7 linked regions of the Homo sapiens genome follow. The protein of the gene in region 7 purifies or fractionates together with the protein of the main gene of each other region. This does not show direct contact. Each region holds a gene or a part of one and is shown on either strand. Other genes may lie near its edges. The genes, in order: GJC1, MIA3, DNAJC18, TXK, QSER1, PRKAR2B and ANO4.

Evidence for each region.
Region 1: the proteins of ANO4 (region 7) and GJC1 fractionate together in Homo sapiens (co-fractionation; one large-scale study listed by BioGRID). This does not show direct contact.
Region 2: the proteins of ANO4 (region 7) and MIA3 purify together in Homo sapiens (affinity purification with mass spectrometry; one large-scale study listed by BioGRID and IntAct). This does not show direct contact.
Region 3: the proteins of ANO4 (region 7) and DNAJC18 purify together in Homo sapiens (affinity purification with mass spectrometry; one large-scale study listed by BioGRID and IntAct). This does not show direct contact.
Region 4: the proteins of ANO4 (region 7) and TXK fractionate together in Homo sapiens (co-fractionation; one large-scale study listed by BioGRID). This does not show direct contact.
Region 5: the proteins of ANO4 (region 7) and QSER1 fractionate together in Homo sapiens (co-fractionation; one large-scale study listed by BioGRID). This does not show direct contact.
Region 6: the proteins of ANO4 (region 7) and PRKAR2B fractionate together in Homo sapiens (co-fractionation; one large-scale study listed by BioGRID). This does not show direct contact.

The regions. Positions count from the first base shown.
Region 1 is NC_000017.11:44,823,788-44,827,287, forward strand, and holds part of GJC1 (gap junction gamma-1 protein), read right to left. Parts: intron 1-3,500. UniProt on the Homo sapiens protein: One gap junction consists of a cluster of closely packed pairs of transmembrane channels, the connexons, through which materials of low MW diffuse from one cell to a neighboring cell.
Region 2 is NC_000001.11:222,652,597-222,656,096, reverse strand, and holds part of MIA3 (transport and Golgi organization protein 1 homolog isoform 1 precursor), read right to left. Parts: intron 3,090-3,500; coding exon 2,967-3,089; intron 2,870-2,966; coding exon 2,758-2,869; intron 1,855-2,757; coding exon 1,799-1,854; intron 1,709-1,798; coding exon 1,618-1,708; intron 1,443-1,617; coding exon 1,304-1,442; intron 1-1,303.
Region 3 is NC_000005.10:139,409,703-139,412,614, reverse strand, and holds the end of DNAJC18 (dnaJ homolog subfamily C member 18), read left to right. Parts: 3' UTR 1-2,412; downstream 2,413-2,912.
Region 4 is NC_000004.12:48,068,251-48,071,750, forward strand, and holds part of TXK (tyrosine-protein kinase TXK), read right to left. Parts: intron 3,425-3,500; coding exon 3,267-3,424; intron 1-3,266. UniProt on the Homo sapiens protein: Non-receptor tyrosine kinase that plays a redundant role with ITK in regulation of the adaptive immune response. Regulates the development, function and differentiation of conventional T-cells and nonconventional NKT-cells.
Region 5 is NC_000011.10:32,930,811-32,934,310, forward strand, and holds part of QSER1 (glutamine and serine-rich protein 1), read left to right. Parts: intron 1-932; coding exon 933-3,500. UniProt on the Homo sapiens protein: Plays an essential role in the protection and maintenance of transcriptional and developmental programs.
Region 6 is NC_000007.14:107,152,705-107,156,204, forward strand, and holds part of PRKAR2B (cAMP-dependent protein kinase type II-beta regulatory subunit), read left to right. Parts: intron 1-472; coding exon 473-547; intron 548-3,500. UniProt on the Homo sapiens protein: Regulatory subunit of the cAMP-dependent protein kinases involved in cAMP signaling in cells. Type II regulatory chains mediate membrane association by binding to anchoring proteins, including the MAP2 kinase.
Region 7 is NC_000012.12:101,119,776-101,123,275, forward strand, and holds part of ANO4 (anoctamin-4), read left to right. Parts: intron 1-744; coding exon 745-850; intron 851-3,500. UniProt on the Homo sapiens protein: Has calcium-dependent phospholipid scramblase activity; scrambles phosphatidylserine, phosphatidylcholine and galactosylceramide. Does not exhibit calcium-activated chloride channel (CaCC) activity.

The sequences.
Region 1 (3,500 bases), on a different chromosome or scaffold from region 7:
TGCAACCTCTGCCTCCCAGGTTCAAGCGATTCTCCTGCCGCAGCCTCCTAAGTAGCTGGGACTACTGGCGTGTGCCACCACACCTGGCTAATTTTTTGTATTTTTAGTAGAGACGGGGTTTCACGGTGTTAGCCAGGATGGTCTCGATCTCCTGATCTCATGACCTGCCCACCTCGGCCTCCCAAAGTGATGGGATTACAAGGCGTGAGTCACTGTGCCTGGCCCTCTTTTCGTTTTTTGAGATGGAGTCTTGCTCTGTTGCCAGGCTGGAGTGCAGCGGCACAATCTCAGCTCACTGCAACCTCCACCTCCCGGGTTCAAGCGATTCCCCTGCCTCAGCCTCCAGAGTAGTTGGGATTACAGGCGCGCGCCACCATGCCCGGCTAATTTTTTGTATTTTAGTAGAGATAGGGTTTCACCATGTTGGCCAGGATGGTCTCGAACTCCTGACCTTGTGACCTGCCTGCCTCGGCCTACCAAAGTGCTGGGATTACAGGTGTGAGCCACCGCACCCGGCCTCTTTTTTCAAATAGAGACTGTCCCACTCTGTTGACCAGGGTGGAGTGCATGGTGTGATCACAACTCACTGTAGCCTTCAACTTCTGGGCTCAAAAAATCCTCCTGCCTCATCCTCCTGAGTAGCTGAAACCACAGGTGTATGCCACCACATCCAGCTAATTTTCAAATTACTTTTTGCAGAGACAGGGCCCTCACTATGTTGCCCAGGGTGGTCTCAAACTCCTGGGCTCAAGGTATCCTCTAGCCTCAGCCTCCGAAAGTGCTGGGAGTACATGTGTGCCACTGCACTCCAGACTGGGTGACACAGTGAGGCTCTGTCTCAAAAATAAAATAAATAAAATAAAATCAGTCAAATTAGCCAGGCGTGGCAGCATGCGCCAGTAGTCCCAATTACTTGGGAGGCTGAGGCAGGAGAATTGCTTGAACCTGGGAGGCAGAGGTTGCAGCGAGCCGAGATCGCACCACTGCAACTCCAGCCTGGATGACAGAACAAGACTGTCTTAAAAAAAAAAAAAAAAAAATTAGTCAAGTGCAATAGTGAGAAGGGGGGGAAAGAAAGAGTCCAACTATTTTTTTTTTTTAATCAAGTGCTTATATGTTTTGGGGAAGAAAAAAAAAAAAAAAACGTTGGGATCCAGGTGCCTTGGCCTGTAATCCCCATATTTGAGAGGCCAAGAGGACTGCTTGAGCCCAGGAGTTCAAGACCAGCCTGGGCAACAAAACAAGACCCTGTCTCTTCCAAAAAAAATTTTAAAATTAACTGGGCGTGGTGGCGGTGTGGGCCTGTGGTCCCAGCTACTAGGGATGCTGTGGTGGAAGGATCGCTTGAGAGCACCACTACACTTTAGCCTGGGCTACAGAACAAGACTCTGTCTCAATTACAAAAAAAAAAAAAAAAAAAAAAAAAAAAAGGCTGGGCGCAGTGGCTCATGCCTGTAATCCCAGCACTTTGGGAGACCGAGGCAGGTGGATCACCTGAGGTCAGGAGACCAGCCTGACCAACATGGAGAAACCCTGTCTCTACCAATACAAAATTAGCTGGGCATGGTGGTGCATGCCTGTAATCCCAGCTACTTGGGAGGCTGAGGCAAGAGAATCTTGCCCAGGGGGCAGAGGTTGCGGTGAGCCGAGATTGCGCGACTGCACTCCAGCCTAGGCAACAAGAGCAAAACTCCGTCTCAAAAAAATAAAAAGGGCCAGACACAGTGGTTCGCGTCTGTAATCCCAGCACTTTGAGAGGCTGAGGCAACCTGAGGTCAGGAGTTCGAGACCAGCCTAGCCAACATGGTGAAACCCTTTCTCTACTAAAAATACAAAAATTAGCTGGGCGTGGTGGTGGACACCTATAATCCCAGCTTCTCGCAAGGCTGAGGCAAGAGAATTCCTTGAACCTGGGAGACGGAGGTTGCAGTGAGCCAAGATCGTGCCACTGCACTCCACCCTGGGTGAAAGAGTGAGACTCAGTCTCAAAAGAAAAAAAAAAAAAAAGTTGAATGACTTAATGGGCACCAGAATGCTTTTGTCCAAATTGTGCTTGTATTACAAGCATTATAGCCTCAAAGAACAAAGCTTCAACTGAGAGCTGGAGAAGAATTCATTTACCAGAATACTTCATTTCTTTCTTTTTATTTTGAGACAGAGTCTCGCTCTGTCGCCCAGGCTGGAGAGCAGTGATGCGATCTCGGCTAACTGCAACCTCCACCTCCCAGGTTCAAGCCATTTGCCTGCCTCAGCCTCCCGAGTAGCTGGGATTACAGATGACTGCCACCACGCCCAGGTAATTTTTTGTACTTTTAGTAGAAATGGGATTTCACCATGTTGGCTAGGCTGGTCTTGAACTCCTGACCTCAGGTGATCCACCCGCCTTGGCCTCCCAAAGTGCTGGGATTATAAGCATCAGCCACCACTCCTGGCCCCATTTCATTTCTTTAGAAGTAAAATGCTGGCCGGGCACGGTGGCTCACGACTGTAACCCCAGCATTTTGGGAGGCCGAGGTGGCCGGATCATGAGATCAGGAGATCGAGACCATCCTGGTTAACACGATGAAACAGTCTCTACTAAAAATACAAAAAATTAGCCGGGCATGGTGGTGGACGCCTGTAGTCCCAGCTACACAGGAGGCTGAGGCAGGAGAATGGCATGAACTCGGGAGGTGGAGCTTGTGGTGAGCAGAGATCACGCCACTGCACTCCAGCCTGGGCAATGGAGCGAGACTCCGTCTAAAAAAAAAAAAAAAAAGTAAAATGCTATCTGCAAAGAGATCATCATATCCTTGTTTTAGGAAAACTCTTTGGGCAATATATTCCACAGGTCTGAAAGATAAACCTTTATTGCCAAGGACTGCTCTCAGCCAACTACAGTACTTGTAAAATTCAAGAATGTATAACTGTATGCCAGCCAGTACTGACTAACAGGTCATTCACTCTTTAGAGTTGCAGTAAATAGCAATGCTCAAACGCCCAGCTAGTTTTTTGTATTTAAAATTATTTGTATTTAAATCTTAAAAAATATTTTTAAAAATACATTTTACTAGGTTCTTATTTCAACACAAACTGAACTCATCAGCTGTAGCAGTATGTTGAAAAACAACTGTTGCCATTCAGCTGATATTAACAGCTCAGAACTGTTTTCTATGTCTAAATTTCAGGTTAACGATATCAGCCAAAATCTATCTTCTCATACCTATTCTCAAAGGAACGGTCTTACAAAACTAATAATCTGGTCGAGTGCGGTGGCTCACACCTGTAATCCCAGCACTCTGGAAGGCAGAGGCAGGCGGATCACCTAATGTCAAGAGTTGGAGACCAGCCTGACCAACATGGTGAAACCCCGTCTCTACTAAAAAATACAAAATTAGCTGGGCATGGTGGGGCATTCCTGTAATCCCAGCTACTTGGGAGGCTGAGGCATGAGAATCACTTGAACTCGGGAGGCGGAGGTTGCAGTGAGACAAGATAGCACCGTTGCAGTGAGACAAGAT
Region 2 (3,500 bases), on a different chromosome or scaffold from region 7:
TCGGGAGACTGAGGCAGGAGAATGGCATGAACCTGGGAGGCGGAGCTTGCAGTAAGCTGAGACCACGCCACTGCACTCCAGCCTGGGCGGCAGAGTGAGACTCTGTCTCAAAAAAAAAAAAAAAAAAAAAAAAGGGAAAGAAAGTCTGGAGATACGTGATTAGCTAGGGGACTGGCATAAAAGATGACAAGGGCCTGAATTAACACAGTGACTTTAGGGGTGGACAGTAGAGTACAAACCACACATGGAGACTGAATGAATTTTGGGGAAGTTGAATAAAACACTGCCACATCAATGGGTTAACTGTATCACGAAGAAAAACAGTTGCCATTTACGTAATTCACATTACTATTGGAGGCAGAGAAGTGCTCTTTTTTAAAAAGTAATGAAATGAGGAATGTCTCTCTGAAGCAGGACAGGCATTTATTTAGAGCTGGCCTGAACAAAACCTGGAAAATCTAAACTGGCTGCCTGGTGAGCAAAGAATTAGAGAAAAAGTTAATGGTATGGTTTCAATATTTAATGGCATACAGCAGTAGCAGTCTAAGCATTTAAAAAAGTTAAATTTGCTTAGCAAGAGAGGCCTCCTCACACACTGCCATATACACCAAAGAGTAAAACATAAGAGCAAACACAAATAGCAACTGCCACAGATAACCTATTTTTAGAGAATTCAGATGTTTTTGTGGACAAAAAACTTGAACTATAAAAATATACCTCTCAAAAGGTACCTCGCTCGAAATTTGAGATATGTATTTCAGAGGATTATTATCTAAATATACACACCAAATAGTTCTACATTCAAAACTCCTAATATCTTTGCCACAATTATGTTTAGTTTGAATATTTTACTCTGTGAAGTCCAAAACTAAATGTACCTTCAATAAGTAAATTTTCCTTTTTTGAAGTTTTTATTCTACTAAAACACGTCATACAAATCCCTCAGACTGTTTAAAGGAAATTACATAATTGACCACAAAGAAAGGAAAGTGAAACAAGTGGCGGAGCCACAGACAAGGCATGGCCAGATCTTCAAAAGAGAAGCACTCCCACAGCAGCGACCGTCAGTACCAGTACACTGCTCCCCCTTAAGTGAGTTACAGGCAACAGTTTTTGACTACTGGTTAGAAAGGAAAGAAAAATGCAGCTTATGAGAAACAAAGCAGAAAGAAAGAAAGACAAATTTATACTAATTACAGATGCAAAAGAGTACAATCCTGAAAAACGATAACATTATCTATATTAGTACACATTTATTTACTGACATGACAATACAGTTAACAGTAAATGATGATAATCTTACTTTTGCAAAGCCATCTCCTTCTGCTGATAGAGCTCATTCAGAATCTCCACTTTCTGCCTCAAGGTTTTGCATTCATCTTCCAGTCCAGCTTTGGCAGCTTGTAGTGAGTTGCGGTCATCTTCCAATTTCTTTACCTGGTCTGTAAAGGATAAAACATTTGAGTTCCATATGTGTGCACAAGAACTTGAGAACTTGGTTGGGGGCTGGTGCTGAGAGAAATGAGAAGTATGAAAGCAGGAAGCCGCTCTTTATCTTTCTAATGCAATTTTGTATCTTTCCAATATATAGCAATTTCTTCTCAAGAAGCAACCTACCTTCCAGGTTACATTTAGTGGACACGGAGGCTCTTAGCTTAAGCTGTAAAAGCTTTAGATCCTCTTCAACTACCGATATTGCAGTCTGTGTCTAAAAATTGCAGAAGAGACAAGTATTCATAAAAGTGAGGCATAGTAAAAGTATTCACAGGCAATTATGGGACTCTAAAAACGATTATACCCGAGAGACATCCATCATCTGCTTAATTTGATTTTTCATCTTCTCATTCCGGTCACCTAAAAAACAAAAGGCTTTCTTTCATTGCTTTTTCTTCCCTTGCTTTTTAAATCTATATTTTCTTGATTTACCCAAAACTAAACAATTGTCATGTTCAAACATTTAAAGAACAAACAAAAACAGAAAAGGATTAGACTGACTTTTAAGAGAACTGCAAACTTAAGACTGAAAAAGTGAATTCCCATTTGTACAATAAACATGTTATACATGCCATTATTGAGCAAGAAGAAACATGTGAGATAAAGCTCTTTCTTCCATCTGGGCTTAGTGTCTTATTCAGAAAGATTCCCTCCTATTCTCCTCCAGAATCTACTACCAGGTGTGGTTTAAAACACCCACTACACAAGCAATATCCAACTTGAGAGAGGGCATCTAGAAACATTTTCCTCATCAGTAAACACTGCAACACTATAGCCTCCACTCTCATGGCCTTAGTTTATGGATCCAACCACCTCAGTACTCTCAAAACCAGTTGTGGTTTTCTTTCATGGCCTTAGTCAGTTTATGCCTCCAACCACCTCAGTACTCTTAAAACCAGTTGTGGGCCTTAAAACCACACAGCTACTGAGATGACAAGTTTTAAAATGTTATCTCCATGAAATTGAAAAACAAGTTTCTACTACTGTATGTGTCCAATACTTAGAGGTGTAAGACATGACCAGTGCAGCTCCCGTGCACCCTTCTAGTCTCAATGTGAAAACAAAGTCAGTGTTCACTGCATGCTTACTGCTACACCTCACCCTAGCAATCCACCTCTGCCCAATGCAAACAGACACACATTCAAATCCAATGTATTTACACCTCGAAAGCTTAAGAGGAAATGCAGCCAGCTGAAAAGTAGCACTGGTGCACTTAAAGACAGGAAGGCAAAAGGGGTCCATCCTCCTTGAGGCTGATCTTACCTCCCACTTCTCCATTTGCTAATTCATCTGAATCATTTCCACCTTTATTTTGACCCTCAGATTCAGATTCACACTCTAACAGATTCAACTGTGTAATGCAGTTAGTCAAAGCCTAGAAAAGAAGTAAAAGGGCATTAAGAGTCTTTCCATTTAATTCAACAGATTTGATAATTCACAAGAATTAAGCTTGTATTCATGAACGCACTTACATTAATATTATCATCCTTGTGAGTAAGAGCTACTTCCAAATCTTTCTGAGACTTCTCAAATGATTTGATTTGCTCACTGAGCTCAGCATGTAATTTACTCCAGTCTTCGATTTCCTGCTGCAACTGCAAAGTTAAAACACATGATTCCCACAGGTTAGGGCTTTTGCACTGGAGACATTAGGACCACATGAATGAGACAGGTAAATAAGGAACCATGCCTCTCCTTGGCCTATCACTATGGGCTAAGACCTTGGTTAAGTGGGAGGAGACAGTGGCCCCAACCCTCAGAGCTGTAGTGAGAACATCAGAGCTATCAAGGAAATTGATCTTGTTTATTGCATCCTTCAGAAAATTGTAGCCAATTCAAATAATTCACTTCCAGAAGGAACAGAAGGGCTCATCCTACTATCTCCCAAGTCCACACTCCTGATCATGTAACCTTCCCTTGGCTAGTGAAGCAGTAACTACTCAAAGGAGGGTTATAAAATATCTAACTCTTGGGTCTAAAAAGCCAATCTACTACCCACTCGAGGC
Region 3 (2,912 bases), on a different chromosome or scaffold from region 7:
AGCCTACACTCCATGCTTCCTTCATATTGGAAGAAAAGTTTCTGGTAGAGAGTCGGCCGGGTGCACTGGCTCAAGCCTGTAATCCCAGCACTTTGGGAGGCTGTGGCAGGTGGATCACCTGAGGTCAGGAGTTCAAGACCAGCCTGGCCAACACAGTGAAACCCCATCTCTACTAATAATACAAAAATTAGCCAGGTGTGGTGGCACATGCCTGTAGTCCCAGCTACTCGGGAGGCTGAGGCATGAGAATCGCTGCAACTTGCAAGGTGGAGGTTACAGTGAGCTGAAATCACGCCACTGCACTCCACTCCATCTCAAAAAAAAAAAGAGTCTACATTAAACAGATTCCAAAGTAAAGTTTCTTCATCCCAATGCATGGCCATGATTTACACAGACGTGCCTAGCATGGCTCATCAACATCTGAACGGTTGTTCCCTACCATGCCTCTGCAGGCATTCCACAGAGTCAGGAGATGGGTTCACAGGTAAAGATTGGGGGCTTTAGTGGCTTGTAGGGGACAACTGCTCAGTTGCAGGGAGAGGGAGCATTTCTAGAAATAGCCAGATTTTGCTGCCCAACTAGATCTGTCCTCCTGGTTTTAGGGGGCCCTTCTTGATCCCCTCTGAGTGACTGAGGGAGGTTACATTGTAAAATATGTCCATGAGCCAAACAGGCTTATGGAAAGTTCTTCTACACACAAAAAAATCAAAGCTCTCCTCTCCCCATCCCCAACCACTGCTAGAAAATTGGCCATAATGAAACTGACTTGACAGGTTAAAAGACCCTGTCCTAGATGCCCAGGAATCAGGTAGTCACACATTTTATGGACTTCATGGCAGCGATAAGTAATCTGTGATGATACTAAATAGAAGCAATAATAACTAACTCCATTAAATGTCACGCTGATTGTCTGTTTTTATAGCACCGATGGTACTGTTTTATTTATTGCCAATAGACCACAACATTCACATCTGTTTTTCCTCAAGGGAACCGTATTTGCTTTTGGTTGAAGGATTTATCTATTTGATACTATCCAGAATATTGTGAAGCTATAATTTCCTGGGTTATATTTTAGATGGGTTGTCTGCATGGTGGTAAAATAAGCTTTTTCCTCTCGCCTACGTCCTTTGGAAGATCTCCTGATCATACATAACTAGGTAGGGCTTATTCTTGCTGCCGGAGCTTGGCACCCAGCTCTAGACTGTTTCTTTGAGCATTACTGCAGATTGGAGACGTGTGTGAGAGGAGCAGCGCTCAGAAATAGGGCTTGAGGCTCAAGCAGAAACTGAAGCTCTCATTCAAATGAAGATGCTCTCTCTACCGCACGATCGGCAGTGAGAAAAGGAGGATGAAAATCCTTCTCATCACAAAGAGCTTGAAGGAACCCACGTCCCCAGATTAGCAACCCTAGAGTTCATCTGCTCAGGCCGGGAAATGTGTAAGCTTCCTTGATCAGCTCCAGGCCTCACAGCACGGGAGCAGTGACCAGTAAGGAAACGTCACTGCTGTGCTTTCTGTTGGAAATTGTTCGAAAATACAGTGAACTGGCCAGGCCCAGTAGCTCATGCCTGTAATCCCAGCACTTTGAAAGGCTGAGGCAGGCAGATCATTTGAGGTCAGGAGTTCCAGACCAGCCTGGCCAACATGGTGAAACCCTGTCTGTACTAAAAATACAAAAATTAGGCGGGCATGGTAGCACGTGTCTGTAATCCCAGCTCCTCAGGAGGCTGAGGCAGAAGAATCTCTTGAGCCTGGGAGGCAGAGGTTGCAGTAAGCTGAGATCACATCATTGCACTCCAGCCTGGGTGACAGAGCAAGACTCTGTCTCAAAAAAAAAAAAAGAAAGAAAAAAGAAAATACAGTGAACTCCAGATGCCACTGGAACATGGGTTCCAGCAGCCTGGCCAAGCTATGTGTCATTCTTTTTCCTCATGATACCCAGGATGGGCTTTGTGAGGAGGCACTGTGCCGTTCCAGTGGCTTTCTGTTACAGCTGGCCACACCATACAAGCAAGTACATCATCTGCATGCACTGCTCCTCACAGGAGCTTGCACTTCATTCATATTTATTCTGCCCTCATTTAAGGTATAAGCTTAGTGTCCTAATATATTTATTTTTGGAAAGGGCCAAGTTACAAAACATCTTTTTTTTGAGGCTGCACTGTTGATATGTCATGCAGTGGCCACCAAGAAAGTATATACTCGTGTTAGATACTGATTACATCATTTACATCACGCTCAGTATTTGGAATTAAAGATGTGAATGTTCTGTGACCAGAGTAGGGATGACACAAATGGAATCAGCTCCTGGTGGACTAAGAATCTTGAAAAAATCTGGCCACCTCATCCACTACATCTGGATTGAGTGTACTGCAACAAAGAAAAACATTAAACAATTTTATATTAAAAGAATGGCTACTTTTCCTTGGTTCTTTTACCTTTGCCCATGGCATCCTTGGCCACTGCACATCGCCTGACTCCCTTGGAGCCACTTCCGACTAAAGAAGCTTTTGACGCCTGCTCCAGTCTTCCCTCACCCGTCAGTGGGATTATTTGCATTTAGAATAGTAGATAGCATTGTTGGCATCAGTTCCACATTTTCTATCAGATAACAGCAGCTGCAGTACCTCACAGCCAATATACAGATCAAAACTACACTTAGCATCAGAAATTCAGGTGTTATCCCAGTTCCTTGCTGGCTTTGGTCCTAGTGGCCCATATTTAGGAAAGTTTTGGTTTAAAAATATAGTAAATGATATTTACATGATCCTAACTGGTCATGATAGCTTTCATTTGAAAAAGAAAGTGAGATGAGATTCAATTCAGCAATGATTGAGAACTTACTCTGAGCCAGGTGGGCTGGGTTTTTGGAATGGGGGTCAGGGAACAGGTGAGGCCCAGCACCAAGACTC
Region 4 (3,500 bases), on a different chromosome or scaffold from region 7:
CCCTAGAGATATATTTGAATGACTTGACATGTGTGAGGTAAAGAAAGGGCTGGGAGAAGGGGCATCTAGCATACCAGGCTCCCAAGCTCAGTTCAGGGTATCTATGACACCTGAGCCATTATAGAAAGGAGGATTTCAGTCAGAAAGCAAAAGGCATGTTTTCATGAGGGACTTTGAAGGTCTTGGGGCACAGGTTGTGCTTTCAGTCTCAGTCAACAGAAAAATAAGAGTGTGGAAGTCCCTCTCACACATAGAAAAATGATTGCTGAATATTCTTACATTTTAAAAAGTTTTAAAAGCCTGTGATCTTTGCACAGTTTTTGAGTCAGCAACTCTAAAGGAAGATATTCACCATAAGTGACCCCATATCCCTGGTCATGGAGCCAAGGATTGGAGCATTTTTTCCTACTTCACTTAGGGGTGTGGTTTAGCTCTGATTCCAAGAGGAAGAAGAGATGGCACTGTCAGCATCTTTTAAAACCATGGGAAACAGAGCTACTCATAGTAGCCACATTCTCACAGGGGTCATTGACAGTAGGGTCAGCGGAAAGACACCCCTCTTCATGGCTTATAAACAGAGAGCATCAGTAAAATAAACAGAGCAGAAGACAGCACAAGTGCAAGTGAGGGTCCTTATTGAGACTCTGGGCATAAATTGTGGAGCTCTGTGAGGAGCCTGTTTCTGCGCATGAATCCTGAAATTTGTCTCTCAAAGATAGCATAATCACGTTTGACTCTAATGCCCTAAGCACATGGGGTAAAGCTGTAGGCAATATCAACTTTTGCACCTGACATAATGACTCACATCTGTAATCCCAGCACTTTGGGAGGCCAAGGTAGGAGGACTGCTTGAGGCCTGGGCAACAAAGTGAGACCCCATCTCTAGAAAAAATTTTAAAAAATTAGCTGGTCATGGTGGCACATCACTGTAGTCCCAGCTATTCAGGAGGCTGAGCTGGGCGGATTGCGTAAGCCCAGGAGGTCAAGGCTGCAGTGAGATGTGATTGTGCCACTGCACTGTAGTCTGGGAAACAGAGCAAGACTCTGTCTCAAAAATAAATCAATCTTTTCTTTTCTTTTTTTTTTTTTTTTTTTGAGACAGTCTGGCCCAGTCACCCAGGCTGGAGTGCAATGGTGGGATCTTGGCTCACTGCAACCTCTGCCTCCCAGGTTCAAACAATTCTCCTGCCTCAGCCTCCTGAGTAGCTGGGATTACAGGTGCCCGCCACCATGCCCAGCTAATTTTTTTGTATTTTTAGTAGAGACGGGGTTTCACCATGTTAGCCAGGCTGGTCTCGAACTCCCAGCCTCGTGATTCGCCCACCTCAGCCTCCCAAAGTGCTGGGATTACAAGCATGAGCCACCACACCCGGCCAAATCAACTTTTTCAAACAAATAAATCGACATAACCACACCATTGTATTAATCAATGTTCTGATTGCAATTTGAGACAAATGTTGTTTACATGGTCCTTCTGACAGCATCCTACTTATCACTTCCCTTCCTCCTTCTATGTCTCAGTTCCACTTACATATAACATCTCAATAAGCATTATATTACACACACACGTGTGTATTATTTCATACACAACATATACTTCTGAGCTACTTACATTGTTATTGCAAAGATGCTCCTAAAACGGCTGCTTATTACTACTCACTGAACATTTTTCTGAACATTTTTTTCTTACAGCTTGCTGAGCATTTTTCTATGTCTTTCAAGATTCCTTGTAAAGTAGTTAATATATGTAAAATATTTTCATACATTGGGGCTCTCTATAAATGTAATGCTTTTGGAATATGAATAACCACATCACTCTTAAAATATTCAATATTCTAGTGTTTGTGGATTGATAATCAAGTGCTTTATTTTTTCAGCCAGGAGGAAACTTCTCATCAAGCTGCAATTTCCAGCTGAAACTGTCAGCTGGAAAGAGACCAAAGCTCTCAAAATCAAAGGGAATTTCACTGAGAAGGGCAGGGGTGTGTTGAGTCAGTGCCCAGAGGTGGAAAAGAAGCCCCTCTGGCTTTATTTCTAAGCTTGGCATTTCAACAAATAGAAAAACTAAGTTCTGGAGAGATTTCTTCCTGAGTGGAAGTTCCTGACACACTTTCTGCCTCCATTCCTATTCTAGTTTAATCTGTAGCAGGAGTCCTGACTGCCAGAAGACAGATGAAACCCATTACTATTAGCGTTGGAAAAGCAAGACAAAGCAAAGTTGAGTGAAGTAAATGGAAACACCATCTTTCTTTTTCAACCTGGAAATTTAACAAGCCTGGTTCTACCCTTAGTTTCCACCATTAATTCTTTTATTTATTTGCTTATTTATTTATTTATTTATTTTTTGAGACAGAGTCTTGTTCTGTTGTCCAGGCTGGAGTGTAGTGGCGCAATCTCAGCTCACTGTAGCCTTTGCCTCCTGGGTTCGAGCAATTCTCCTATCTCCGCCTCCCAAGTAGCTGGAATTACAGGCATGCACCACCAGGCCTGGCTAATTTTTGTATTTTTAGTAGAGACAGGGTTTCACCATGTTGGCCAGGCTGGTCTCAAACTCCTGACCTCAAGTGATCTGGCCACCTCGGCCTCCCAAAGTGCTGGGGTTACAGGCGTGAGCCACCACACACAGCCTCCATCATTTAATTCTTTTTTTTTTTTTTTTTTTTTTTGAGATGGAGTCTCACTCTGTCGCCCAGGCTGGAGTGCAGTGGCGCCATCTCGGCTCACTGCAAGCTCCGCCTCCCAGGTTCAAGATTCTTCTCCTGCTTCAGCATCCCCAGTAGCTGGGATTACAGGCATGCACCACCACGCCCGGCTAATTTTTGTATTTTTAGTAGAGATGGGGTTTTACCACGTTGGCTGGGCTGGTCTCAAACTCCTGACCTCAGGTGATCCACCCGCCTCGGCCTCCCAAAGTGCTGAGATTACAGGCATGAGTCACTGCGCCCGGCCCATTAATTCTTAAAGCTAATAAAACATCTAATCACTGAGGCTTGAGTAACACCAAGAGTTTCTGCAAGAACCAATCTCAAACAGATAAGACTCAGAAAATGCACTGAATTCCTCAGATAAAAGGCCATTGTTCAAAACAAAATGGATTCATGACTTTGTAGTGAGTTTGAGATAGTACTTCAGACTCTCAGGATCATGACCAAGACACAGATGCCTTTTCCTGCCATGACAGAGTTCTGAAGTAATGTTTGTGATAATCAGGTCTGCTCTCAGATGCTGGGACTGCCAACCTTCATAGGAAAGTAACATATGCTTACCTCATGCCAGCAGCTGTACATGACTTCATATATGGACATTGGTGCCAGGTGAGGGCGATATAGCCTGAAGCCTTCAGAAATAGCTTCCACGACTTGCAAATTTGACTTATTTTCAAAAGGCATTTTTCCTTCTGTAAAAACTTCCCACATTAAAACTCCTGCAAACAAAAATGCAGGAAAACAAGGGGTTAGAGAGAAATGATTGCTTGGGAACTGAAAGAACAATTTCAAACT
Region 5 (3,500 bases), on a different chromosome or scaffold from region 7:
CAGATCACAAGGGTAAACCCATTTTTACTTTTGCTATATGTGGCTAAAATGCTGTCCTGAAATGTTAACAGTCTCTTTCTGACAGTACTTTGTTAATTTCTGATCAACTTTTCATGATAAACATGCATCTATTATGATTGGGAAGTTGTTCATAGGAAGTGAAAGCTTGAAATGCAAGAGATTTTTAAAGTGAATATATTTTGGTAAAAGAAACTGCAGTTCACTGTTTTTTTATATTTATTTATCATGTTAGATGTAGGCAATTTAGCTTTTTTTTTTCCATTTTAATGTTATGTACATTTTGGTTTGTCCATTGGTATTTTGTGTTGGTACTTTGGGATAAATTAATCACTAGAGATATGTACATTTTTACTGATTTCTTCATTTTCCTATGACCTTATCAAACTATATATAAATTATATAACAATTACAGATATGAATTGCTGATATCATTGTAACTTCATTTTTACTCTATGAAAACTAGCTAATCCAGGCGTGGTGGCTTGCACCTATAATCCCATCACTTTGGTAGACCGAGATAGGAGGATCACTTGAGCCCAGGAGTTCAAGATAGCCTGAGCAACATTGCAAGACCCCATCTCTACAAAAATTTAAAAATTAGCCAGGTTTGGGAGTATGCGCCTGTAGTCTCAGCTACTTGGGACACTGCGGCTGCAGTGAGCTATGATCGCAAGACTGCACTCTAGCCTGGGCAACAGAGTAAGACCCTGTCTCTTAAAAAAAAAAGAAAAGAAAGAAAGAAGCTAGCTATTTTGAAATGTAATTTTCAAAATTTACATGCAGAACTAACTGGTCAGGTTTTTCAGTCTTAAGACATTTTGATGAGTTGAGGGTTATGTAAGTCATTACTATGAAAACATAAAGTAATTGTGCCATAATTACATAAAAATCTTTGTGCCTTTTCTTCATAGGCATGCATTCCTCAGCAGCAACTGAGCTGTTTGCTACTGGACCTTTGCCAAGCACTGGAACACTTCCACCATCTCTCTCTGCTTATCAGCATCCCACCACCTTCAGCAATAGAAACTTTGCTACCACTTCACCTTTGGTGCTTCAGGATTCAACTTTTAACACTACATCAAATGGAATTTTAAGTCATCATGACCCTTTGCTACAAATCAAGACTTCCCAGGGAACTGTTCCAACTGCTTTGGCATTTGAGCGCCTGGGCAGTTCTGTATTAAGTAACAGCATACCACCTCAGTCTTCAACATACCGCTCAGCTCAAGAGTCTGCACCCCATCTTTTACAACCTCAATTTAGTTTGTTGCCTTCAGCACTTGGGGGATCCCAGCAGACTCCTCAAGCCTACAGTTCAACTCTCTTTACTAGTTCTACTGCTTCCATTGAAAGAGCTCTTCTTCGAGAATGTAGTGTTATTAAACACCATCAGCGGCCTTCAGGTACCCAGTCAATTCAGGCACAACTGACTGGTTCACAGCACTCCTTACATAGTTATCTATCAAATTCAAGTGTAGTTAATTTTCAGGAAACAACCAGGCAGTCATCTTTATCCTGTAGCCCAATTGGAGATTCCACTCAGGTGAGCAACGGAGGATTACAACAGAAGACCTCCCAGGTCTCAGTGGAACTTGCTCAGTCTTACTCATCTGCGATTCCATCATCAGGGTATCCTCCTTCTACTACAAAAATAAAAAGCTGTTCTACAGAACAACCACTGACATCAACCAAGACCCCTAAACCTCAAAGTATAATTCCTCCTGTGCAAACACTAAGCTATTCCAAACCTTTACATAATCAGAGTTCTGTAATATCGGGCCAAGCACAAATTTATTCTACAGCGCAGCTACCAAGCCTTTTATCAGTTAGTCAGTCCCAAAATTACGGTTTAGTACAGCCACATAATGTGCCATCTATTGTTCATTCACAGGTTTATAGGTCCAGCAAGGTTGAGAAATTGCCACCCTTGTATAAAACATTGACTTTTTCTGGGTCATCTCAGACTGTAACTCCTGAAAATCAGACGCTTAATTATTCATCTAATCAGCAAGAGGTATTGTCTTCAGTTACAAATGAGAATTACCCTGCTCAAACAAGAGATCTGTCTTCAGTAAGTCAGTCTCAAAGTTACTCATCTGGTCACTCTCAGGGTTTATCACCAGTTAGCCAGACACAGGTTAGCTATTCATCTCAATCACAAGTTTTGTCAGTTGTTAGTCTTTCAGAAAGCTATGCTTCAGGGGAGTCCCTAACATTAACAGCCCCTTCTCTTTCTTATTCTTCTGCCTCTCGGGCTCAGAATTTGCCAGACTCTAGCCCGACCCAGAATTATATTTCTATGCATTCTTCCCAAAATGTTCAGACTCAAGAGTCATCATCTCCCCAGTCCCAGAAGTTTTTGCCTGCTGTCCAGTCATCATCTTTTGCATCCTCTACTCATTGTCAGACATTACAAAATAACATAACTTCCCCTGACCCAAAGTCTTATGCTGAAAGAAAGCTTGACTCAGATGTGTATCCATCTTCAAAGCAAGAAGATGGTTTTCCAATGCAAGAGTTACAGGTGTTGCAGCCACAAGCATCTCTTGAGTCATCAACCCAAAGGCTATCTGATGGAGAAATTAATGCTCAAGAATCAACTTATAAGGTGTCAAAGGCAGATGACAGATATTCTCAGAGTGTAATCAGAAGTAATTCCCGTCTTGAAGATCAAGTTATTGGGGTTGCTCTGCAAGCATCAAAAAAAGAAGAAAGTGTTGTTGGTTCAGTGACACAACTTAACCAACAAATTGGCCAAGTCAATAATGCAGCTACCCTTGATCTTAAGAACTCAACTAATTTAATACAGACTCCACAAATAAGGTTGAATACTAAAGACTTAAAGCAGCAACATCCTCTCATACTTAAGGTGCATGAGTCCAAGGTCCAGGAACAGCACGATCAAATAATTAATGCTTCATCTCAGATTCAAATTCCAAATCATGCTTTAGGGCATGGCCATCAGGCATCTCTTCCTAATACACAGGTCCTTTTAGATTCTGCCTGTGATTTACAAATTCTTCAGCAGTCAATACTGCAGGCAGGTTTAGGTCAAGTAAAGGCATCTTTACAAGCACAGCGTGTTCAAAGCCCTCAACAAATAGTACATCCCTTCCTTCAGATGGAAGGTCATGTTATTCAAAGCAATGGTGATCATTCTCAGCAGCAACTCCATCCTCAAAATTCTGAAGTTATGAAAATGGACCTCTCTGAGTCTTCAAAACCATTACAACAACATCTAACAACAAAGGGCCATTTTAGTGAAACAAATCAACATGATTCAAAGAATCAGTTTGTTTCTCTTGGATCGATGTGTTTCCCAGAGGCAGTGCTTCTTAGTGATGAAAGAAATATTTTATCAAATGTAGATGATATCTTAGCAGCTACAGCAGCAGCTTGTGGAGTTACACCTACTGATTTTTCCAAGTCAACTTCAAATGAAACCATGCAGGCTGTTGAAGATGGTGATTCTAAATCTC
Region 6 (3,500 bases), on a different chromosome or scaffold from region 7:
ATTATCAGCTTACATCTGGTAAAAATTTTGTCCACATCACACAGTGCGTGGTAGACAGCTGATCTTTTCCAGCAGCATATTTCTTTAAATAAGAGTAGGTCAGGGATTGGAAATCTGGTGCCTTCAGAGCTAGGCAGGTAACACAGAGAAGAAAACCAAGCCAGGAAGGGACTTTGGCAGATTGGAGAACATGTATTTCATTAAAGAAACAGCTGCTATCCCACCATAGTTTTATTGTTGCCATGTGGAAATATGGGCTATGTGATGCTGATTTTTCAAGAGAAGCTGGAGATTGAATTTTTATGAAAAATTATTTTAAAATGCTGGCTGGTAATTAATACAACAAACACATATACAACCTACACACTGCTCGATTTATTTGGCCTATAGGCTACCAGTTTTTTACTCCCGAACTAGATAAGCTTACCCAGTTAATTTGTTTCTATTTAATATTGTTTTTCTTTCTTTGTAGTTTTCTGAACGCCTGAAAGTAGTAGATGTGATAGGCACCAAAGTATACAACGATGGAGAACAAATCATTGCTCAGGTATGATATTTTGAAATGTAATTCAGTTTAGGGTTATATTCCAAAAGGTTCCTGTAGTGGTAGATCTTGATAAACTTTTCATATTTCTAAAATTAGTATGCAGTGATGGGTTAAATAAATATTACTTCTACCAAATGACCTGTTAAAAATGGTTTCATTTATAGTCATTACTCTATTGAATATTTTTGTTTATGTAATTAACTCCTAATGAAGGTGTATTAAACCATCAAATGGTTTTCTGCATCATTGTAGTCATTTATAAGAGGAAAAAACAGGTGAATGTTCCATGACATTAATGAGGACCCAGAAAGTACACTGGAAAATTCTATAGAGTTTTGCATGATCAGTTCATGATGAAAATTCCTGAGGCTGCTCCTTGATAAAATTCACCAAGAAAGGAACACACTGCAACATATACTGTTTTGGCTTCCAAGACTACATGTGGGTCAACATGTTATTTAATCCCTAATACTTTTCTAAGATCCCAGCTGGAACCAATAATATTAGATACCTGGGTTGGAGTAGGGCTACCAAAAGTAGAATTTGTGAAGACTGTTGAAGTTCACAGGTAAAGCATGCAGATGATAGTACCTTGTTTCCTAGTTATATTTTTGAAGCACTAAGCAAATGATTAAAATGGATTTTTAATAGATTCTGTAATTTTTGTATCACAGCCTTATACTGTTTTGTGCTCTTTATCTGAAATGCAGTCTTTTCCTTTATATGGGAAACAAGATTCAAGGTCTTTGAGACTGAGAAAAAGAATTGTTTTAGAAGACAAATACATAAGTAAATCTTTCGATCAACACCCCTCTCCCATTGCTGAGTGTGTGTGTGTGTATGTGTGTGTTAGAGCAGTCAGGGATTGGGAAGAAATGGAGTCAAGCAAGGTTAAAGTTCTACTGTATAAACTAGTAAATAACAAAGCAAAGAGCATGTTTTAAATGATTTTTTAAGGTTTTATTTTGAAATAATTATAGATTCACAGGAAGTTGCAAAAATAGTTTTGAGAGGTCCCGTGTACTCTTCACCCAGTTTCTCCTAATGCGTTTTGCATCACTGTTAATAACAATATCAAAACTAGGAAAATGACATTGGCATAATTCACAGACCATATTCAGTTTTCACCAGTTTTACATACACTTAGAGCGTGCTTTAAAAATAGTTAAAAATTACTCAGCAGTTAATAGACCTATTATGATTCAGAACACTCGAAAACTTAATATGAAGCTTTTATGAAAACCTGATACAAGAATAAGGGAAAGGAGATATGCTATACTTAGGGTTTATTAAGGATATTCTTACATATTTGTTGTCTTTTAAGCATTTATAAATATACATATACACCCTATATTCTAAAAATCTAAATTCAACATTTATTTTTGTGATAGAATCAGATGCTAAACTTCTTGAATTTGTATTAAGGAGTTTTGAAATATTTTAAGTTTCTCCAGAATCACTTTGAGAGGCTTAGAGAAGTCAGTGTCTGTATTATTATCTTCCATATTGTATTGTTTAATTCAGACTGCATCATTGGAGATCAAGGCAGAGTTCATTAAGAAACAAAAGCAAGAAAGAACAGGTATATGGGTAGAGCAACACTTTTCTTTTAGAAGTCCTTCCAAAGCCTTGAAATGGAATGTCAGTAGGCTAGCATGTCAGAGTTTGGTCCTCAGTTGACTGTAGTGAAAATGTCAAGGCCCACATCTGCTGCTTCCGGCTCCATCTGGATGCTTTCTGCTCTTTGCAAGTTGATGGCTTATCTTGGGTCACCACACCAATGCTTGCGATGTTAGGATGACGCAGGGTGCATGTCTCGGCACTTCCTCAGGAGCACAGGATCCGCAGACATGTTTCTGCCAACTAAGGGGACGCTGCTGGCATACACAGCAGTGTTGCCATTTCCAACTATGTATGCTGTTATCTAGGCTGAAATTTGGGTGAAATTCTTACCCCAGTGTTGCCACATTTTCTTGGTTTTTTAGCAGAAATACAGTGGTAGAGAATATATTATTTCAAGGCCAGGCACAGTGGCTCACGCCTGTAATCCCAGCACTTTGGGAGGCTGAGGCAGGTAGATCACTTCAAGGTCAGGAGTTCGAGACCAGCCTGGCCAACATGGTGAAACCCCATCTCTAATAAAAATACAAAAAAATAAATAAATACGGGTTCTAGATCCCTGAGGAATTGCTACACTGTCCTCCAAAATGGTTGAACCAATCTACATTCCCACCAACAGTGCAAAAGCATTCCTATTTCTCCACAACCTCACCAGCATCTATCGTTGCTTGACTTTTTAATAATTGCCATTCTGACTGGCGTGAGATGGTTTCTCATTATGGTTTTGATTTGCATTTCTCTAATGATCAGTAATGATCTTTTTTTCATTTTTTTTTTGGCTGCATAAATATCTTCTTTTGATTCTTTTGAGAAGTGTCCGTTCATATCCTTTGCCCACTTTTTAATGGCAGAAATACCATTTGACCCAGAAAACCCATTACTGGGTATATACCCAAAGGAATATAAATCATTCTGCTATAAAGACACATGCACACATATGTTTATTGCAGCACTATTTACAATAACAAAGACATGGAACCAACCCAAATGCCCATCAGTGATAGACTGGATAAAGAAAACGTGGTACATATATACCATGGAGTACTATGCAGCCATAAAAAAGAATGAGATAATGTCCTTTGCAGGACATGGATGAAGCTGGAAGCCATCATTCTCAGCAGACTAACACAGGAGTAGAAAACTAAACACCGAATGTTCTCACTCATAAGTGGGAGTTGAACAATAAGAACACATGGACACAGGGAGGGGAACATCACACACCGGGGCCTGTCAGGGGGTGGGGAGTGAAGGTAGGGAGAGTATTAGGACAGATACCTAATGCATGCGGGGCTTAAAACCAGACAGGTTGATAGGTATAGCAAACCTCCATGGC
Region 7 (3,500 bases):
TTTTAGTTCTTGGGCTTCATAGTGGATTTATGAGAGCTTGTTGTATTATTAAAGTATTACTTTAATGGAGTCACATGGATTAAAGTTCTCTGAATAGTGCCTGGTCCCCAACAGGTATTCGGCAAACATTTGTGGCATTTTATGCCGACTCAAAAGTGATAGCTGGAGGATACATTAGGAAGGACTCTTCTAGTGGCAAGTGGCAGAAATCCAGGGTAAACTGACTTAAACAACAAAAAATTGTTCAGTTAGCTGGGAGAGTCAAGGGGTGATATGAGCTTCAGTAATGGCCGGATCCCAGGCCTCAAGCAGTGTCAGCAGGATGCTGCCTCTCTGCTGTCTCTGCTTTGTTTTCTTGACTTCCTTCTCAAGCAGGCTCTCTCTCTCCATACAAGGCCACCAGGAGTCCCAGGCTTTTGCCTTCTGTGGGCTTAGTGATCATTCACTAAGTGATAGTTCTGGCAGACATCTTGATGATGTCACTGATCAGGTCTGGCTCATCTTTTGAGCTGAGATCAGGCAGGTGGAGGGGGAAGTCCTAGTCAACCCACACAGATGATTCCCCAGAGAAGAGATATTATTTTATCAGAAGAAAAATGCTGGACAAGCAAAACAACAGATATCTAGTATAGAGAAACTTCAAATTTCCCTCCTATTGAATGAGGACTATATAATGAGAATGGAAGAGATTTGAGAATCAGAAAAATCATAGTTTGAATGCAACATTTTTCTGTGTCTTTATAGATACCGGGACTACCGTGACCCGCCTCATTCACTGGTGCCCTATGGCTACACACTGCAGTTTTGGCATGTCCTAGCTGCTCGATTAGCTTTTATCATTGTCTTTGAGGTAAGTTTCCTCAGCCAAATTCTTTATTTCCTTTGACATAATGAAGTCAGTAGGAGTAATGAATAAAAATAAGTGATGGGGATTTTGAATGTGATTATCTATATTTCCAGAAGTAGTAGTGTCATATTATGTAACCTCTTTTTGATCTTTTTTCTTAATTGAAGTATTTGATTTTTCCAAGACATATTTGAAAGTCCATAGTTGGTTTTTAATGGACAAATCTGAACTCGTTGCTCCTAAATGTAATTTTCTGGGGCCATAGTTCTTAAACTTTAGCAAAAATGCAGTTTTTCCATCCTCACTCCCAGATATTCTGACATACCATGTCTGTGGCTTGTTTTTCATGAGCTCGTTGTAATGATTCTGACTATAGGCATTCTGGGACCATAATTTGGAAACATTTGGAAAACATCAGCCCAGTAAGATTCATTCTTTTTTTCTTTTTCTTTTTCAACTTTTATTTTAGATACAGTGGGTACATGTGCAAGTTTGTTACAAAGTTACATTGCATGATGTTGAGGTTTGGGGTGCGACTGAACCCACCACCCAGGTAGCGAGCATAGTATTCAATAGGTAGTTATTCAGCCCTTGTCCCCTCCCCCTCTCCCCTCTATAGTAGTCCCCAGTGTCTGTTGTTCTCATCTTTATGTCCATGTGTACCCAGTGTTTAGCTTCCACTCTAAGTACGTACAATAAGAACTTGCAGTGTTTAGTTTTCAGTTTCTACATTATTTCACTTAAGATAATGGCCTCCAGCTACATCCATGTTGCTGCAAAGGACATGGTTTCATTCTTTTTTATGGCCACATAGTATTCCATGGTGTATACATACCACATTTTCTCTATCTGGTCCACCATTGATGGGCACCCAGGTTGATTCCATGTCTTTGCTATTGTGAATAGTCCTGTGATTGACATATGAGTACATGTGTCTTTTTGGTAGAATGCTTTATTTTCTTTTGAGTATATACCCAGAAATGGGATTGCTGGGTTGAATGGTAGTTAAGCCCTTTGTTCTTTGAGAAATCTCCAGACTACACAGTAGTTGGACTAATTTACCTTTCCACCAACAGTGTGCAGGTGTCCCCTTTTCTCTGAAGCCTCGCCAGCATCTGTTAATTTGTTTACTTTTTTTTTTTTTTTTTTTTTTTTTTTAAGACTGATTCTCTCTCTGTCGCCCAGGCTGGAGTGCAATGGCACAATCTCGGCTCACTGCAACCTCTGCCTCCCAGGTTCAAGTAATTCTCTGCCTCAGCCTCCTGAGTAGGTGGGATTACAGGCACCCGCTACCACACCTGGCTAATTTTTGTATTTTTAGTGGAGACGGGGTTTCACTGTCTTGGCCAGGCTGGTCTTAACCTGACCTCATGATCCATCCGCCTTGGCCTCCCAAAGTGCTGGGATTACAGGCGTGAGCCACTGCACTTGGCCTGACTTTCTAATAAAAGCCGTACTGACTGGTGTGAGATGGTGTCTCATTGTGGTTTTGATTTGCATTTCTCTAATTTCCTTAGAGATTCTGAGCATTTTTTCATATTATTGTTGTCTGCTTCTATATCTTCTTTTGAGAAGTATCTGTTTGTGTCCTTTGACCACTTTTTAATGGGGTTATTTGTTTTTTACATGTTGATTTGTTTAAGTTCCTTACAGATTCTGGGTATTAGACCTTTATTGGGTGCATAGTTTGCAAATATTTTCTCCCATTCTGTACGGTGTCTGTTTACTTCTTTGACAGTTTCTCTTGCTGTGCAGAAGCTCTTTAATTAGATTTGACTTAGCAATTTTTGTTTTTGTTGCAATTGCTTTTCAGGACTTCACCATAAATTCTTTGCCCAGGCCAGTATTGAGAAGGGTATTTCCTAGGTTTTCTTCTAGCATTTTTATAGTTGAGGTCTTACATGTAAGTCTTTAATTCATCTTGAGTTAAATTTTGTTTATGATGATAGGTAGAAGTCCAGTTTCATTCTTCTGCATATGGATAGCCAGTTATCTCAGCACCATTTATTGAACAAGGAATCCTTCCCCCACTGCTTGTTTTTGTCAAGTTGGAGATTCACTCTTTCTAAATGTCTCCAATTATTGCCATCATCATTACCACACATATTGAAATATACTGATTCATATAGTTAATTTATGATTTTCAAATAGTTATCAGGATTTCCCAACATGATCATAAGCATTTTCCAATAGGACTGGGTATTACAAGTGGTATTTCTGGTTGTGTATCATCACGGAATTATTTATATTCAAGCATCCAAGTAAGTATTTATTAGCTAAGACTCAAAATGGAATTATAAAGTAAAATCTGTCTAGCAATTGTCTATATTATATGTCAATAAAAATATATTATCTATTTTCTTTCAGGGTTTAAGAAAATTGCTGTAAAAATAGTTTGCATTTCTATGACTCTAGTCATAAGTGGAAATTTCATCTCTTGTCACATATATTAAAGCCAGATTAATAAAAGCCAAGGTTGCCTCTCGGCTTGGATCTAAAGTTTCCTAGACCTCTTCAAGACTATTCTATCACTGCTTTTTCCTTCAGTCCAGGGAACCAAAAGAAGAAAATATTAAGCTGCTCTTCCCTGGAAATTATCTTACCAATGGCACACTCTCTCTTTAAAGAAGATATTTTTAACCCATCACTGTCT